Regions from separate parts of the Homo sapiens genome. Here region 2 is linked to region 1. Evidence: fine-mapped expression QTL. A gene starts in region 1. The other region holds a variant in brackets. All regions are shown on one strand. Distances are between the middles of the regions.

Region 1 (2,500 bases):
CTGCCAACTCCTTAAAAGGCTGTATCTGCCTTCTTCACCGCTAGCGTCAGGCCTGTAGTTGCATATAAATAAGTGTAATTCAAAACAAAACAGGTGAGCTCTGTCCCAGGACCCGTGGAAACTCCTGCCCCCTCCGGACGTCGGGACACCCACACACAAGCGGTGGTCGCCTTTTCCGCTGCCAGTCACAGGGCATTTCCGTGCTGCTTTCCCCTCCGCAGAATGAGGAGGAGCGAAGTACCGACCTCACCGGCTGGTTATGAGTTTTAAATGAGTCACCAAGTTGGCAGTGACAGTGGCACACAGAAGGCGCCTTTTAAGTATCTGCTAAGGTGCCGTTCCCAGCCAGTCAGAACGGCATTACCATCTGCGCTGTAGGACCCCCGCAGCGGATTTTAGTCATCAATTCATTCACGCGTTCACAATCGTTTCCCAGGGCCCGCTTCTCAGTCAGGGGCGTTCCCCTGCATTCTCCATTCTCACAGCAAACGCCTACACCAGTCGTTCGTCGACTGCAGACACCGAAGAACCTGCTATTAACCATCTAGAACTCAGAACGCCTTGATTTTCCGACAAGCCGCGTGCAGCTTCCACAGAGCTGCGAGGCCGACTCGCAAGACGCCCGCACCTGAGGGCATGCGTCCACCCTGGACCTGAAGTGGCGGCGCGGCTGGCGAGCCAAACGGCGCAGGCGCAGGAGCAAGAGCTCGAGCGGTAGCGGGAAAATCAGGACTGGATCGCCTCGGAGCCTCGGCCCGGAGTGGGTCACCGGCAGGGGCGGGGCTCCCCCTGCAAGGGGGCACGGCGTCGAGGACTTCTCCCTTCCAGACCCGGGAAGCGGGTGTCCCTCAAAGGGCAGCCGGCACACGGAGAGGTCCCGACTAGTCGGCCCAGGGGCGGCCATAAGTCCAACCAGGAAGGCCCTGGCCAGCCCGGGCCAGCCTGGCGGCCCTCCCTGCCCGGGGCCCGTCGGGGCTGTACCTCTCCGTACACCTGGCTCTGCTTTCTCATGTAGACATGGGGAAGCTCGGATGAGGCTGCCAGGGAATAGATGTTGCCGATAAATGGCAGCCCCGGCGGCCCCGGGGGGAAGCCCATCGGCCGCCTCTGCTTCAGCAGCTGGCGGACCCCTAGCGCGAAGAGCAGCAGGAAGAGCGCGCCGCCGAGCGCCGCCGCGCCCTCTTCAGCTCTCCAAAGCTTCCACATCGGCCCGAGCTGGAGGTGCGAACTCCACAGCAGCCCTGAGACCCAGGCACTCCCTCCAGCCCTGCCATACTCCCATTGGCAGGATACCCTCAGGTCCCGCCCTAGCTCCGTGGCCATTGGCTGACTGAGTGAGCGCTCAGGCCCCTTCGGGACAACTACCTTCTAGTTTTGCGCGGCTGAGAGTGGACTTTGCGGAGCGGGTGGCCGGTGCTACCCTTTGGAGGTGGCGCGGCTCTAGGCGGAGCAATGAGCCAGGAGTCCGTTTTCTAGAATGTTGACACAAGGGCATTGACGAGGTGTCAGGACGGCCTCACTCACTGGGCTAGGCGGATCCTGCCTCTCTGGGGCCAGACCTTTCTTAAAGTGTCTTTTTAAGTACCAGGTCTGCTTATTTCATTTCACACTAGGAAAACTGGAGAGATGATCAACACTGCAGTCTTTAGCTGAACCTGATACTTTTCAGAATTTCCAGTAGAAAATTGACCCATCAGTAGTAAAAGAAAGTAATTTTACTGTTTTGTCCTGTTTTACTATTTTTCTCCTGTTAATGTATTTTTGTGTGTGATCTTTTAATAATTGTGATGATTGAGCAGTTTATGTGATTAACTCAGTTTACCTATATTTGACCCCTCTCTGGTCTTTCCAAACTGATTACTTATTGGCAATCACGGGACTCTTGTCTGCACTTGTTCACGGAGAGTATTTACTATTCAAGATTTCTGCCTCCACTGCCTGGAATTAAGCAACTGATTTCATATTATTCTTGCTAATTGTTTTTATTCCTGTTTTCTATTGGGCAGTTCCTTGCAATACAGGACTTACTGGGTTTGGGACTCTTCTAACAGCTGCCCTCTAATTGTGATTTAGCAGTGGCATGAGTTTTATGGTCCTCATTAGCTTACGACTCATTCACACAACAAATATTTATTGAATGTCTACTATGTTCCCATGTCCTAAGCAATGGAGATACATAGGTGAATAAGAGCAACAAAGTCCTTTCTATAACTTACATTCTTATGAGAGGGAAGAGCAATGACATGGAAATACAATAATTTTCAATAATCAGAAGCAAACAAAAAGTGCGTTATAGAAAACGCCTGGTGGTTGGGGAGATACTTTAGCAGGCAAGGGCTGTCAAGGAAAGTCTTATTAGGAAGATGACATTGGAGCTGAGATCAACTGCTAAAGAAGTGTATTTGTTTCCTACTACTGTTGTAATAAATTACCACCAATCTGATGGCTTAAAACCACACAAATTTATTTTCTTACAATTCTTGAGGTGAGAAGTCCAAAA
Region 2 (3,027 bases), 350 kb before region 1:
TTCCCATGTGAATTTGGTTGAAAGGGTAAATCAAGTTTTATACTTGAAGTTTAGTTTATAAAATATTTATTCACATCACTACCACCAACCCCTTCACAGGCTTCCTCCCACAGTAGCTCAGTCAGCCAAGTGGCATCAGAGGGAGCACCGTTTGGAAGGGAGTGTGTGTGGGCAGCTTGCAGGTGAGGACAGGGCTGCCAAGGCAGACCATGCGGTCTGTCCTGTGCCTACACCCAGTACCTGACTTCTGCCTTTCCAGAGCATTTGTATACACACAGCAGTTCTGTTGTTTGGGGTGTGCGTAATTTCAAAAAGTACTTTTTAAAATAACTCATTGACAAGACTTACATTTAGCAAACAAGAATATGTAATGGCAGATATAAAATGACCATGCATGGATTTAAGTGGGAACTTCTCTGAAGTCGTTGGGACAGAAAAACAAATCTACTCCATGTTTTAAAAGTACCTTTGGAAATCTTACTAGTGGCAGCCATTGTTTTCTTATGGGTTCTCAAAGGCTTATTTGTCTGTGGGAATTTCAACAGAAGGTAATACACAGGCAAACTACACTTGAAGGCAACATTTCTCTCTGGCTTTCCTTTTCTACACAGAGAGATATTCTAACTGATTTGCAAGGGTGCTTCTCAGTTGGCCGGAATGAGATATTTTCAGATGAAAGCCTATGACTCTGTGTCACTTTCCCCCTTATTTTTGAATCTCATGTCTTAGTTCTGCAGTCACTGTTATTTTTAATTATTATTATTATGCCTGTTGCCAAGCTATTCCACTTTACACAGAGTTGATTAGAGACCTGACAAATCCAGGCCAACATAAAGTCCTGGCTTCCAGATCAGACTACGTGAACAAAGAAAAAAAAGAAATCTACCAAAGTGCCAGCTTTTAGAAAGCTCTTAAAGGAAAAAAAGGAAGAAAAAAATAATTTTAAAAACCAAAACAAACTAGAGTTATAAAGAGTGGAGCTTAAGAACAGGACCCACGGGCCGGGTGCGGTGGCTCACGCCTGTAATCCCAGCACTTTGGGAGGGCGAGACGGGCGGATCACGAAGTCAGGAGATGGAGACCATCCTGGCTAACATGGTGAAACCCCGTCTCTACTAAAAATACAAAAACAGAATTAGCCGGGCGTGGTGGCAGGCGCCTATAGTCCCAGCTACTCAGGAGGCTGAGGCAGGAGAATGGCGTGAACCTGGGAGGTGGAGCTTGCAGTGAGCCGAGATTGCGCCACTGCACTCCAGCCTGGGTGACAGAGCGAGACTCCGTCTCAAACAAACAAACAAAGAAAAAAAAAACAACAACAGGACCCACAGGAGGAAGATAAAGGATAAAAAAATCCTATATGGCTAAGATAAAAAGGAAACATATAAATGAGAGAATAAAAATAGACCTG[A/G]TATCACTATAGATTTGCAGCATTTAGCCTGTAGTGCTGCGTGACTACTCTAAGCAGCAGGAACCTCTCTCCACCACTAACATAAAAGGGGCACTCTGGCACAGGGTTTCCATTTGTGGCTTCAGAACTGAAATGTTTCCCTTGACCCTCTCTACCCACCCAGCTCTGTTCAGATCTTCACTCCCTTGTTTTCAGCTTCCCTACTTGCTCTCTGCATTTGCCTGGCCCACAAATGCACAAAGTTGCCTTCTGTGGGTGACCTTGTCTTTTTGCAACTAAGATGATGAAAACTGGAACTCTCCATCCAGCTACGTTGTCTCAGGCCACCCTGGGTGACACTCCTCCCAGTTGGATCCAGTCCTCAGGATTTTTCCCTCTGAAAAACACAGTGAACTAGACAGGCTTTTAGGAAACATTACGTCCTCAGGAGAGATACGATATTGCTTATGGTTCAGCGCACACTTCCAGAAAATAAACTGAGATCGCCTAAATGCAGAAAGATCAAAAAAGCCCTTCATTTCTGGAGGTAAATGTCTGTTTTTCAGTTCTACACATACTACCTTACTAAAAGCTGATACCTGATGGATTGCAATTGGGTTTTCACACAACAATAAAATACTACTCCTATCAGAAAGGAAATGTGAAAAAAAATTGTGAACGTAAAAAAGGAACATGTGGAGTTAAACATCAACTTTTCCTCTTAGAAAATCTGCAGAAAAGCCCAGTTAAAGAAGAAGATTGTTTTAGAATAAGTCATCTAATGCTGGCTTACTGTTCTTTTTAAAAAAGGTACACTTTTTGTGAAAAGAATTTTACTTCCCCTGTCATTTTGGGATGGGGGACAAAAACTTGGGAGTATCACTCCCATGTTCTAGTGTAAAAGAAAAAAAAGTTCCTGGTATGAAAAATGTTATAAAGTTAACACTTGGACACAGGAAGGGGAACATCACACACCAGGGCCTGTTGTGGGGTGGGGGGAGGAGGGAGGGATAGCATTCGGAGATATATCTAATGTAAATGACGAGTTAATGGGTGCAGTACACCAACATAGCACATGTATACATATGTAACAAACCTGCACGTTGTGAACATGTACCCTAGAACTTAAAGCATAATTTTTAAAAAAAGAAAAATGTTCTAAAGTTATATATAACAATAGTTTTCTCCCCTAATTAAAATGTTGTATTTTTCTACTTTTCCACATTAACATGAGAATATATAAAAGGCATCCTTGCATAAAACCCTTTGACCAGATTTCACAACTCTAGTCCTATGCTAATAAGAAGTCTTTATTTAGTTTCAGTCTTTCCAAATAAGCCTGTATGCTTCTGACGCAGCAAACACCAGTTTGGTCCTCTCTGTCCTCTGTCCCTTGACCCCCAGGCTCAGTCTATTCACCTAAGGTAAAACTAGACCCTATTTGTACAGAACATATTCGTCTTTGTGCAGGCGCACACAGAACTGGGGGAGCTCTGCTCTGGCCCAGGAAAGAGATAGAGATTGGCTGCCATCCAGTTGAGTTGGCTCAAGAGAAGTTCAGCTTTCTTGTCCTCTCACAGACAGTCCCTTCCGTGCTGACCTTTAACTAATTGGCAGGGCTCTGGAGCCTTGACTCTGCT

What was found. PIP is the estimated chance that this variant, and not a neighbour inherited with it, causes the effect. A credible set is the group of variants that fine-mapping cannot tell apart.
Region 2: its variant is the best candidate, but not a certain one, in a credible set for the expression of CYP2R1 in monocytes (TOPMed, PIP 0.65).

What each region holds. Positions count from the first base shown.
Region 1 is chr11:14,891,000-14,893,499 of GRCh38, forward strand. CYP2R1 (cytochrome P450 family 2 subfamily R member 1) reads right to left here and starts at 1,232. Exons shown (of 5, transcript NM_024514.5): 1 at 982-1,232. The coding sequence starts at 1,206. It also overlaps a transcript of PDE3B not described here. RefSeq lists a silencer at 740-979.
Region 2 is chr11:14,538,565-14,541,591 of GRCh38, forward strand. It overlaps a transcript of PSMA1 not described here. Among named protein-coding and RNA genes, the nearest start is that of PSMA1, 20 kb to the left of the region's middle. The variant A/G (reference allele first, on the strand shown) is at 1,409.